Homo sapiens: one gene and its partners. The protein of the gene in region 1 purifies or fractionates together with the protein of each later gene. This does not show direct contact. Each region holds a gene or a part of one and is shown in the gene's direction. Other genes may lie near its edges.

Region 1 (2,899 bases):
TGTAACTACCGTGCTATTATCACACCTAATATTAATAAATTACTGTTAATTTTTTTACTAAATATCGTAGTGTTCAAATTTCCTTGATAACTTCATAAACATTCATACATTATATTACATGATTTCTACCTTAAGTCTCTTAGATTTGCCTTTTATCTTTCTTCTTTCCTTTGCTCCAGAGTTCATGTCTTAACCACCATACCTTATTAATAATTTATAATTTGTATAGAATGCTCACATGGTTTCTTACTGCTAAGTTTCTTTGAAAGTGTATTAACCTTGAAAAGCAGTGTAGGTATTTTCCTACCCTCCTGTGGGTCCCAATATAAACCACAAGTGTGGGCAAACTTTAGATTGTTCGGATTATTGAGTTGTTACTAATAAGCCAAACGGAAGCATTTCAGATGATATGCTGTTTTGTTTTTTTTCCTTGTCACTAGGTTCCACTAGCACAGTCAGTTTACTTTAGGTTTATGTCTAATGGTAAAATTGAAGAGCTCTTCAGTGACATTTGAATTGAAGAAAATAGAGTTTATTGGTTGATCTGTTTTATTGGTGATTTTTTTTTCTCCTAGGGATCCTATCTGTAACTAAAAAACCACCACCAGTGGATGGCACTCTTGGCTTTTTCCACAGTGATATTAATTCGAGTAGTTTGTTCTGAAGTAACCGTTCTGGACCAAAACATTCTAGTTTTTGGAAGACTATGGTCATGAACAAATATTCAGTCCTTGGTGGATAATTTTATAGTTACAAGAATCTTTTGGAATTATAAAGGAAATGCAGTCATTCCTCCATGTCCCTTGTTTCTGCATCTGTGGATTCAACCAAGCACAGATTGAATATATGTGAAAAAAAGAAACCAATAAAAATAATACAACAACAACAAAAATACAAGTGAAACAATACAGTGTAACAGCTGTTAACATAGCATTTACCTTGTATTAGATATTGTAAGTAATCTAAAGATGATTTAAAGTATATAAGAGGAAGTACATAGGTTATATGTGATTACTATACCATTTTATATCAGGGACTTGAGCATTGTGGATTTTGGTATCTATAGGGGTCCTGGAACCAGTCCCCCAATGGATACTGAAGGATGACTACTACTTGCCTCTGTTCTTTTGTTTATTTTTAGCTAACTCCCTCTGGAACAGCATTTTAAGAGCAACGTCTGATATTTTTGGATAAAAATGCTAACTCTGTGATGTTGATTCATAAAATGTTCCCAAGAATTGGTATATTAAAATTATTCTGGGCCAGGTGCGGTGCTCATGCCTGTAATCCCAGCACTTTGGGAGGCCAAGGCGGGCAGATCACTTGAGGTCAGGAGTTCAAGACCAGCCTGGCCAACATGGTGAAACCCTGTCTCTATTAAAAATACAAAAGTTAGCCAGGCATGGTGGTGCACACCTATAATCCCAGCTACTGGAGAGGCTGAGGCAGGAGAATCGCTTGAACCCAGGAGGCAGAGGTTGCAGTAAGCTGAGATTGCACCACTTCACTCCAGCCTGGGTGACAGAGACTCCATCTCCAAAGGAAAAACAAAAAGTTATTCTGTATTGTAATTTAAAAATAAAATTTCTTCTATTTGAATTTTTAAAGTTAAAAACGTAAGTAAATCCTGTCATTGCTAACAGGGCCACATATGGACTCTTACTCTTTCCTCTAGACCCCCAGAGTGTAGAATGTGATACACTTTTGTCCTTTTCTCTGAGGATGTGCTGCCTAGTGTCGTGGAATCTGCCTGACCATTGCAAGCATCCAATTTTGTGACCAGTTCTTTTGCAGGAAATTGTTTCTGAGAAGACTGGAAGACAAGAAATATCCCACCTCTTCTAACAAGATCTGAATTGTTCGAAAAGCAGCCAGTGCCTAACTTGTAGCTCCACTTATGCCAACTGTATATATACCTCTCGTGAGCATAGCAAGTGATTTAATATTTTGAAAAGATGGCTAAAATCCTTTTAATGAACAGCACTAAAGTTATATGTATTAGAGGAGAATTATTGAATGAGATGGAGAAAGAGTTCTGAAATTAATATTTACATTTTGGCTTTTTTACAGATAATATTATATTTCTGAGTGACCAGACGAAAGAGAAGGAGTAGAAAGGATGATTCTTCTTTGGCCATCATTTGGTACAGTCTCATTTCCAAGTCATGTATAATCTTTATGGCTTCCAAGGACAAGAATTAAAATACTCTTTTACGTAAAATGAGTAATAATCTTTTTTCTGACTGTCGTTCTCGCTCTCCTTTTTGTGGTATAATCTTGGTAGCTACTATCTGTTATGGCATTTACTAGTTGTTTATTCTTCTAAGGGTGGTTTCTATGTACAGGTATACAAAATAGTAAACTTTCAGGCTCATTTGTGTTATGGCAAAGGGATAAATATGCTTTGGGAAGGTCTCCTGGTTTTTGTATACACTTTTATTACAATATTGATTTGTCCAATCAGTGAATTTACTGAGCATCACTGTATGTGAGACATTTATCCCATATTTGTAAATATTGATTTTCTTAACGTTTTGCTCTGTAGACATGAAGGCAAGGACTGAATCTTCTGTTTGCCTGCACTTTAAACCATGCTTTACATAGAATAGCCACTCAGTAAGCATTGATAGATGAATCATCCCAATGGGATTCTAAGCTTCAGCTCAAATTGAAGGGAGTTGCTGAGCAGTGGTTAGTGTCTAACCTAAACATCTTTAAGACTAACCTACCTTCTTCATATCTTTTGTTTTTGGACAGTTTCATTAGTAGCATTGATGAAACATAGTTTACCAGCAATAAGGACCTGAATAATTAGAGATGAAATCGTTCATCTCCAGGTGATGCCACAGGAGCTGTAGTTCTGTTCTTTCTCTGCCCCTGTTATCTGTGGGGAAAAGAA
Region 2 (3,768 bases), on another chromosome or scaffold:
CCTCAGTAGACTTAACAGATGATGACCAAACCTCTAGTGTACCTCATTCTGCCATCTCTGATATTATGTCATCTGATCAAGAAACTTACTCTTGTAAACCTCATGGACGGACTCCACTTACCTCAGCTGATGAGCATGTACATTCCAAACTGGAAGGAAGTAAAGTAACGAAATCTAAGACTTCTCCGGTGGTATCTGGTTCATCTAGTAAATCAACCACCCTTCCAAGGCCACGACCTACCAGGACTTCCCTCTTGCGCAGAGCACGACTTGGTGAAGCTTCAGACAGTGAACTTGCTGATGCTGACAAAGCATCTGTTGCTTCTGAAGTATCCACAACAAGTTCTACATCAAAACCTCCCACAGGAAGGCGTAACATCTCTCGGATTGATTTATTGGCTCAGCCTCGTAGAACACGACTTGGCTCACTGTCAGCTCGTAGTGACTCTGAAGCAACAATTTCTAGAAGTAGTGCCTCTTCGAGGACCGCAGAAGCCATCATTAGAAGTGGAGCCAGACTAGTACCATCAGATAAATTTTCTCCTAGAATTAGAGCTAACAGTATCTCTCGACTCTCAGACTCCAAGGTCAAAAGTATGACCTCAGCTCATGGCTCTGCTTCAGGTAAATTGGATCCAGATTTCTAATAGCATTAGCATGTTGTATATTTGGGGGCTCCTTTTTTTTTTTAAAAAAAAAAGTAAGGTTCTAGTTGTCTTCCCAAGATACTCATTCAAAACAAAAGTTATGATATACGGGGCAGCGGCGGTGGGGGGTCTATAAAACAGTTTTATTTAGCATAGTAAATGGAAAATCAGAAGTTATACATACTTCCAATTAGAGTCCTGGCGCAAAATAGTGATTTCAAAACTAGGAATTCATTGAGCTGATTTAGGAGTTTTAATTTTCCAGTTGGTGCTATATTTGGATGTGTGTGTCAAAATTAAATTATCTGGAAGTATCTGGTTTAAAGTATAGGAATTAACATTGTGCTTCTAAAAGCATGTGTTTAACCTTTAAATATCCTCACATAATTCAAAGCCCTTAAGAACTTGAAGAAAAGCAGTATATGCTTTATTACTCCTTTCAGAGTTAAATGAAATAATCAATGTTTTCTTTTTTTTCCCTACCCATTTTGAAATGTCTCACATACTTTACCTATACTTTTTAAAGTTAAATCTGTTTATAGTTGGAGCAGGTGAAAACTAACCTTAATTTATTTCAGTGGAAGAAGATGGATTCATGGGGAATCACTCAGCGTATATTGGCCAAACTGGGCTGTAGAAATTTAACTGGTTATGAGCATTATCTCACAAAGTGCTGTTATATCATTTAACTCTAGTAATTAGGTGTAATTGAATATAATAACTACAAAAACTACTTACTTTCCACCAGAATTTAACTGATGCTGTTATATTTGTTTGCTTATGTGCTTTGTATTCAGAGCTGAGGCCATTGAGATACATGTGTGACCAAAGAGTAATGAGGTGGATATTTGTTTGTGTCCTATATGCATGTTCTCATTACTTCATAATGAGCCTCATATGTGGACGTGGCTGCAAAGGCCAGTGTGGGAGGCCAGCTGTTACAACGGACATGAAGATGTGTGATTATTTTCAGTAGGCAGACATCTAAGTAAGCCCTAAGTCTTGAGTTAAGAGTGGAGGGGAAGTTGATATGAAATTTCATCTTTTTATTTTTGATTGGTTTACATCTACCACACCATCTCCTACAAGACCCTAAAGGAACAGTACTTTGCATATGATACTTTTTTCACTTTTCTTCCTCTTTTCACTGCTGCTTTCCTCCACTCCATTCACCTGTATCTCTTTGCTGGTCAGTGGGTTTGGTAATGATGGTCACTGTCTATGGTAGAAATGGACGTAGGGTGAAGCCAGATAGCATATAATCATGATTCCAAAAAAAATAGACAACATTTTCCTTATTACCCCAGTCCTCATTTCCACACTTGAAGCTTTGGTTGGTGGTTCACAAATTTATTGCCAAATATTTTAAAACTAACTACTACATTTTGGTTTATTTTCATTCTGTTTTTGGTTATGGCTCTACTTCAATTCACATTTCATCTGTGCTGCATTTCCTGATGAAATTTCTTCTGCTGTACTCCTTGTTTTATCACCTCATCTCCATTAAGATATGTATGTATTTTCCTGTCTTAACATAATTTCTATGTTACCAGATAGCTTGGAGTACCTCTTAACACATGATGTGGTTTTATTCCTCGATATTTAGGATAAGGCTTGAGATGCAAGCTAAATATGATTACTTCAGCAAGTCTAAGAAACAACTGTAAGATGCTATATATAAAGACAGATTTCATTTTCTGCTTCTTTGAATACAGAACTTGATAAATACTCAGTTTTCTGTGTCCAAAAATAACCTTGAATTGTGTATGAAATTCCCTAGGACACATTGATGTATATGATTTTAGTCTTTTCATACTTACTAGCAGTATATTAAATAATTAGAATCATGGAATTTAAAAGTTAGAAGGGTTATTCTCTTAAGGGAACCAAGGCCAAGAGAGGAAATAACCTGCCCTGGGCACATGGCAGTGGCAGGGGCAGAATAAGAATCAAAGACTTTTAATCCCCAGCCTGTTTTTCTACCGTATCTATTCTAGCTCTAAGAAATAGTTTCAGTGTTTACTTGTATGCAAGCTTCCAGAAGACAGCTAGAATCTACTGGATTATTATCAGGAGTATATGCAAGGTCAATATACAATATAAAGGTTTTGGTATTGTTTACTAAAATCTTTGCAGTTCTGATGTTTTACCCAGTTTATATTCTCTATTCCACCTTATGAGTGTAAAGCCATATTGTAATCTAGGATTGTATATTCAGATTCTCTCAAGATACCCACTTATAGTATTAGACCTTATCTAGGACAGTGGCCAGGATCTTTCCTTCAGTGAGAACATACTATAATAGCTGTATGGAAAAGGTGGTCAAACAAACAAACCTACCTGTTTGATTTTGCTAATTTGGTGCCTTTGATATTATAACATTTCTTTTTAAGATAATTATAATATTTTGAATGGAAAAAGAAAAGCAAAATTTTAACTTTTGAAACATGATTTAAAAGAATGTTAAATCATGCCGATCAGTGTTGCTGTGCACAGTATAAACTTTAAAGACCTTGGAAATAATCTGAACCTAGCACTTGTGATATTGTCCCAATTGGATATGTAAAAATAATTCCATAATGTTTCCAATTCCATATTTTAGATGATGTCTCTAAAATATTTTTAGGCCAGCACAGTGTTTCATGCCTGTAATCCCAGTATTTTAGGGGAGGCCAAAGTTAGAGGATTACTTGAGCCCAGGAGTTCAAGGCTGCAGTGAGCTGTGATCACACTACTGCATTCCAGCCTTGGACAAGTGAGACCCTGTCTCCATTAAAAAAAAGTTTTTTTTAAAGAAATGTATGTGATAAAAATAGAAGATTGGAAATCTCAGATTTAGCAATATGAAGAGAAGAGTTCTGTATGTTTCTCTGATGTAATTTGCAATTTGCTTCTAGGAGTTTAACTAGTTTTTTTTTCCCCAAAACATTCTTTCAGTGCTTCTTTTTTTTTTTTTTGAGACGGACTCTTGCTCTTGTTGCCCAGGCTGGAGTGTAATGGCACAATCTCGGCTTACTGCAACCTCTGCCTCCTGGATTCAAGTGATTCTCCTGCCTCAGCCTCCCAAGTAGCTGGGATTACAGGCGTGTGCCACCATGCCCGCCTAATTTTTGTATTTTTA
Region 3 (3,768 bases), on another chromosome or scaffold:
ATAAGAAGTTTTATAGTTTATGGTCCAAAACTTCAGTTGTTGCAAATTAGTAACTTTCTGTTCTAACAAATTTGATTTTATCTTTTATTTTAGTTGGATTTGCAGTACTAAGCATAGAGTTTTGTTTCAACTGGCTTATGGAGAAATGCTTTTCAGTGAATTGTTACTAAAGGTTATTACTTTCATTTTTAAGGAGAACTTACGTTCCTTCACAAAAGATGCTCATGCTTTAATTTATAAAGATCTTCCATTTGAAACTCTGGAAGTTGAAGCAAAAGTGGCATTGGAAATATTTCAACACAGCAAGTAAGTGTTGGCTTTCTTTAAATCAAGGCTAACTCTCCCAGTATTATATGTAATAAAGAAAATTCAGGTCTTAAAAATTTTTATATTTGATATACATGTGACAGTGTATTATTTTCCAGTCTGAGACCTCTGTGATCTCATTTATTTCGCTGAGGAAAATGTTACCCATGTCCCTTGATAATTTTCTCACTTTGTTTTACTTCTCTGTTCTTGGACCAGCCTTTCTCATTATATCAACATAGTGGCATGTTTCCCTTTTTTCTTTCTAGTGTGAAGTGATAATGTACGTTAAGCGACTATATAATTGTGTGTATTTGGCAGTGTTTCTCTCCTACCCCTCCACACTTAAAATGACACTGATAAGATTGAAAATGCAAGCAGTTTGGGAGGGGGCTGACAGCTGAAGTAAAATGTTTACACAGCCAGGTCTTAATCTTCTGCATGTGAATTATTCATTTGATGGATTTTCTTTAACATTTTAATTCCTGCCTGGCTTCTCAGTTCTCAGAAAACTTTCAGTTCACCTTCTACTACCAGTTGTAAGAACATGAGCTAAATTTTAACATTAATCTAATACAATATTAGAACTAACTAGAAAGAGAAACCTGTGCTGTAAAAAAAAAAAAATAACAGAGTCTGAAGCCAAAATATGCACCTAAGAATTGTGAAAGTTTACTGATTAGAATTTCTTTAGGTATATAGAAGTTGAATTACAAATTCTCATAGGGATAGGTTATCGTAAATATATTGGGTTATGAGTGTGTTTTTGACACATACTTTATAGCTTGGCATTTCTCAAAGCAGTCTGTCTTATAGTATTCTTCTATAGGATGTTAATTGACATGTGAAACCATGTACTGTGTTAAGCTGAGTTTGAAGAACAGTGGCTTAAAAAATTTTACTCGGCTGGGCGCGGTGGCTCACGCCTGTAATCCCAGCACTTTGGGAGGCCGAGGCGGGCAGATCACGAGGTCAGGAGATCGAGACCATCTTGGCTAACACGGTGAAACCCCGTCTCTTTTAAAAATACAAAAAATTAGCTGGGCGTGGTGGCGGGCGCCTGTAGTCCCAGCTACTCAGGAGGCTGAGGCAGGAGAATGGCGTGAACCCGGGAGGCGGAGCTTGCAGTGAGCCTAGGTGGCGCCACTGCAGTCCGGCCTGGGCGAAAGAGCGAGACTCCGTCTCAAAAAAAAAAAAAAAATTTTTACTCATCGCACTCAACGGTCTCCCAAAGTGGACATTGAAAATTTCCCAAATATATTTGCCCATGAAACACTTTTTCTTGAAACATTTTTAGCGTGTCCTGGAACCAGTGGATTTAGAAACCAGTTGTAATGTACTGTTTTAACTAGAGTACAGATAGTATTGTAGAACCAAACCACCATTTATAGCATTGATTCGACAAGAAAATTCTTTGGACTATCTGAACACGTGAAGTCACTCTCTGTGACAAAAGTCTAGGCACATGCTGCCCAAAAGAAATATAATATGAGACATCTGTATAATTTGAAATTTTCTGTAGTTGCATTGAAAAAAAGTCAAAACAAAAGTTGAAGTTAATTTTAATGATTTTATTTAAATGATACATCTAAAATGTTACTCAGTGTAATCAATATTAAAATATTGATGTTATTTTATATTCTTTTTCACTAAATCTTCAGAACCTGGTATGTGTTTTACACTTAAGGCACATTTTAACTAGTACTAATCACATTTAAGTGCACCATGGTACTTTACTGGACAGTGTACTTTTGACTTCCATTCAGTACACATTGAGATTTCCCATTCCTCTAACTGTCAAGGACTGGTAGCGGCTTCTGGGACTTTTGTAACTTAGTTGAGTGTGTGGTAGGAGGAAGGGGATAATTCTGGAGGAAGCTTGATAGGACAAAAGAGTTGGTTCATTGAAGGTGGGTCAGTGATTGAGTCCTTCTGCTGCAGGAGTAAGGGTGGGACCTTTTTGTGGCTTTGACTCTCAGGGGACAGGAGCATCTCTTGGAGGTGGGTCAGGAGGGATAAGTATTCAAGGGAATTGGCACCCTTATTAGTGCCTGGGGGACTGTAGCAGTCAGTGGGTGTTTTTGCATAAACCAGTGTTCCCTAACTTTGCCACATAATTGTGCATACACCTGTGGTGCACCTACACATATTACTTGTTTAGCACCCTGAGGTAAACAGACAAAGCTCTCAATAGTAAATGGTAAAGTCATGGTTTGAACCTGGGCTGTGCAGTTTCATCTGTGCCTTTAGCTATACTGACAGAATTGGGTAGATTTGAGAGATACTGGGCAGTCAAATTGACAACTTGATAATGAATTGAATAAAGGAGATATGGTAGGAGAAAGGAATCAAGGAAATCTCCCAGGTTTTTCACATGGACACCTGGGTGGTTGGTGGTATCGTACTAAGACAGGAAATTCAGGAGGAAGAACAAGTTTGGGCGGGGAAAGAGGTGGTAATTTGTGCAGTTTGCAAATTTCAGGGTAAGGTGCTTGTGGAACATCCTAGAGGATGTCCAAATGGGTCTTGGATATACAGTTTGGTGGTCAGAAGAGGTAGGTAGATTAGAAGCAGAGATATAGGACATACAACTACATAAGTTGTAGCTCAAGGGGCTGACCTAGGGAGGATGCTTAGCGTGAAAAGAGGGTGTAGGATAGAATTCTCAAAGGGTAGAGAAAGACAGGAGTGGCCAGAGATGTAAAATAACAAGCAGTAAGGAATGCCACTGATACCCATGGAAAGAGCACTTTGAGGCTGGATGTGGTGGTTCATCGCTATAATCCCAGCATTTTGGGAGACTGAGGCAGGAGGATTGCTTGACACCAGGAGTTTGAGACCAGCCTGAGCAACATGGCAAGACCCTATCTTTACCAAAAAAAGTTAGCCCGGCATGGTGGCTCACACCTGTAGTCCCAGCTACTTGGGTGGCTGAGGCAGGAGGGTCGCTTGAGCCCGAAGTTTGAGACTGCAGTGAGCTATAATTATGCCACTGCATTCCAGGGTGGGTGATAAGAGTAAGACCCTGCCTCAAAAAAAAAAAAAAAAAAAAGAACAAAGAAATAAAAATGGAAAGAAAGAACACATTGAGAAGTGGAGGTGAGCATTGGTATTAAGAAAATGAGGACCAAAAAATGTCCACTGGGTTGACACCAAGCAGGTCTGTGACTTTGTTGAGAACAGTTTGGCAGAGTCATGGGGCTGTGGCCAGATTAAAGGGAGGTTCCAAGTGTAACCTACTCTCAGAAAGTATGGCTGAAGAGGAAGAGAAAGGGAGGTATCTTTAAACACCTTTTTACATATTTTGAGTTAAAAAAATGTTTTTTTCTTTGCTGCTTTTCAGGTACAAAGTAGATTTCATAGAAGAGAAGGCATCTCAGAACCCTGAGAGAATAGTCAAGCTACACAGGTAAGTAAAAGTCTAAAAACTGGCTGCTATGTTAGAGTAAGGCTTAGCTTTAT
Region 4 (3,175 bases), on another chromosome or scaffold:
CAAGGATTACAAAACCCCACTGAATGCTGTTTTCCATAGGGTCTTCCAAAAACATCAATACTCTGTCATTTTAATTTTCCCAGAGACATCTCTCCTGAAGCCCACTCTCTTCCCATTTCAGTATACAGCTGTGACTGTGTGTAGCTAGATGCAGCTATATGGAGAATCACAGATGAACTATAATAATCGGGAAAAGATTGATACTTAATAAATGCCTTTGGAAAAACTGTTTAGAGAAAAAATGAATTTAGATTAATACTTCACACTGGAATTTCAAATGTTTTAATAAGCTAAGCCAAAATAAGTAAATGTTATAAGAATATAACTACCTCAGCTGTCCAAAGCTGGTTTTGGTTTCATCATGGAAGCAAGAGGAAATTAATGACAGGATTAACCACAACTTAAAAAAATGGATGTGCATTGAAAATTAAGACAAATACATGAAATGGGGAAATCGTTTACACTCTGAGATAAGTATCTATAATTATTAAATGAGTTTAGTACTCGTCAGGAACTATTAAATTTAAATATTAATATCCTTTCAATTCTTAGCAAATAAGATGAATAGTTGACAAAATGGAATACAAATATGAAACATTAATAAAGAACCACAACTTGAATAGTAGATTTCACCTCAGACTTAAACAGGCGGCTGTGTAATTGATTGACAGTGGAAAAATAGTCCACTTACGTGTTATTCCTGCTGTAAATATTTTTCTGGAGTATTATCCAGCGATAAGCAGCAAAAGCTATAAAAGCTGATAATACTTTTTGATATGATCGTTCCATTGTTTGCAATATATTTTTATTATACAGAAGTAACTCTCAAAAGAGGATTTTTCTTTTGCAAAATGTGCTAAATGTAATAGAAAAAGAAAGACAAAGTAGTATGTTGGTATAAAAACCATCTCATTAAGAACTATAGCAGGTCTCTGTATTACCTCGTAAAAAAAAGTATATTAATAAAATGAGAAGGAAAAAAGGCAGAACACAGAAGCATATGTGTAATGATAATATTAATTATGCTTAAGGATCAAAGAGTCCATAAAACAGATTAATGGTTTCCAGAGGTTAAGGATGGTTGGGGAAGGAACAGAGAGATGGATATGACTGTCAAGGGTGGCACGAGGGAGATCTTCGTGGTGATGAGTATTCTGTATCTTGATTGAGTGATAGTTAACAGGAACTTAGGTGATAAAATGACAGAGATCTATACACAGGCATTATCTCATGGTGAGCTTCCTGGTTTTGACTTTGTTATATTCTAATTATGTCAGATGTAACCATGGCAGGAAACTGGGTGAAGAGCACACAGTACTTTTCAATATGATCTCTGTGTCTTTCTATAAATCTATCATTTAAAAAAAAAAAGTTGGTTTTTTAAGTTTCTAAAATCTTATAAAATCGTTGGCATACTCAGGTTAAAGGGATATTTTGGGGTGTTCAGTTTTGTTTTGCTTTTCGTCTTGTGATTTTGTTTTTTCCATGTTAAAGTTGGTTGAACATACAGTTATTTTAAGTGCCTGTGTATTCTTCATAATTTATGGAATCAATAGATTTTGCTGTGGATTTTCTGCCACCTTGTTACTTCTTTTATTTTTTTTTCTTCTTAGTATGTGCCAAGAGTTGTAACCTCTGCACAACAGAAAGCAGGAAGAACTATTACAGCCCGGATCACAGGAAGATGTGATTTTGCTTCAAAAAATAGAATTAGCAGCAGTTTAGCTATAATGGGAGTTTCTCCTCCCATGAGCTCAGTTGTTGTGGAAAAACATCATCCAGTCACAGTGGTGAGTCCACATTTGATGACCTTTTGTCAAAAAGTCTTTTTCCTGAGAGTTCATAGACTAGTAAACACTTACATAACATGTTGAGAAGATAAAAATTTATGATGACTGGTACTTGTTCTGCCTTTTCCTGTTACAGTTTTTTTTTTTTTTTTAATATATATACTTGTTTTTCTCAAACCTGCTATAAATCTACGTTTCTGCTGTTGGGAAATTAATTTCAGAAACATCGTTTCTTCCAAACTGTAAAAATTATAAAATACTAAAAGTAATCCAGTGTGTTTGTGGTCAAAAGAGTAAAATATGTAAATGCTTTATTATCAGTTTAAAAAGAGACAAAAATTGTTCACTCACTAGCTGCTCATGTAGCAGATATTTGATTACAAGAAAACTCCCCTACATTTATAGTTTTTAATTTTTGGTCCTTTTTTAAAAAAAGTCTTCCCCTTTTTTCAGTACAATTGTCAGCATGTTTTTAGTTTAACAAAATTCAACTTGCAGTAAATGCATGTGATATAAAGAAGGTGCATTGAATTTGAAGCAAAAATTTTAAAACCCGAGTTAGTGCTTCAGCTTTGCTACTTGTTGGCTTTGTGATATATACAAATCAAGTAAAATATTTGAGCCTCCACTTTCTCTTCTGTAAAATGGGGTTAATAAAAATAGTTAGCTCCTTGGGTTATTGTTAGGATTCAAGATTAAATGAGATAATGTGAAAATTAAACGAGATGTATTAAGGCATTTTATAAACTATAAAACCATAAGCAAATTTAACTTACTGAAAGTTACTAGAAAAAGATACATGAGATATCTCTGAATTATTTCCTACAAATGTGTACGAATCAACAATTATCTCAAAAAGTATAATAAGAGTGATAAGAACATCCCTAAAGAAAAACAAGGATTTATTTATTTATTTATTTATTTATTTTTTATTTATTTTTTTTTTTGAGACAGAGTTTCTCTCTTGTCTCCCAGGCTAGATAGAGTGCAATGGCGCAATGTTGGCGCACTGCAATCTCCGCCCCCTGGGTTCAAACAATTCTCCTGCCTCAGCCTCCCGAGTAGCTGGGATTACAGGCACCCGCCACCACCCCCAGCTGATTTCAGGGACTGATTTTAAAAGAGAATGCCCTCTATAAATTCTCAGCATCGGACAACGTTCCTGTGTACTTTCTAAGTATTAGCAAAAAAAAAGTATATGGAATGATTTTAAATCCTTTTTTCCCGAGTACTAGCTGGGCACTAGATGATTAAATGAAGACAAGCTGGATTGATTTGAACTGAACTTCAGGTGAAGTGGGACCTTAGCGAGGTGGAAGGCTGGAGATAGAAGCACCAAGTCCAGATAGAGACATGGAGATGACAGAGGATTTATTTTAGAATTA

The links.
Region 2: the proteins of SSBP1 (region 1) and CEP170 purify together in Homo sapiens (co-immunoprecipitation; one large-scale study listed by IntAct). This does not show direct contact.
Region 3: the proteins of SSBP1 (region 1) and MRPL39 purify together in Homo sapiens (tandem affinity purification; one large-scale study listed by IntAct). This does not show direct contact.
Region 4: the proteins of SSBP1 (region 1) and POC5 purify together in Homo sapiens (co-immunoprecipitation; one large-scale study listed by IntAct). This does not show direct contact.

Annotation. Positions count from the first base shown.
Region 1 is NC_000007.14:141,748,241-141,751,139, forward strand, and holds the end of SSBP1 (single-stranded DNA-binding protein, mitochondrial precursor), read left to right. Parts: intron 1-2,070; coding exon 2,071-2,114; 3' UTR 2,115-2,248; downstream 2,249-2,899.
Region 2 is NC_000001.11:243,161,140-243,164,907, reverse strand, and holds part of CEP170 (centrosomal protein of 170 kDa), read left to right. Parts: coding exon 1-624; intron 625-3,768.
Region 3 is NC_000021.9:25,593,840-25,597,607, reverse strand, and holds part of MRPL39 (large ribosomal subunit protein mL39), read left to right. Parts: intron 1-193; coding exon 194-306; intron 307-3,649; coding exon 3,650-3,715; intron 3,716-3,768.
Region 4 is NC_000005.10:75,676,389-75,679,563, reverse strand, and holds part of POC5 (centrosomal protein POC5), read left to right. Parts: intron 1-1,613; coding exon 1,614-1,790; intron 1,791-3,175. UniProt on the Homo sapiens protein: Essential for the assembly of the distal half of centrioles, required for centriole elongation. Acts as a negative regulator of centriole elongation.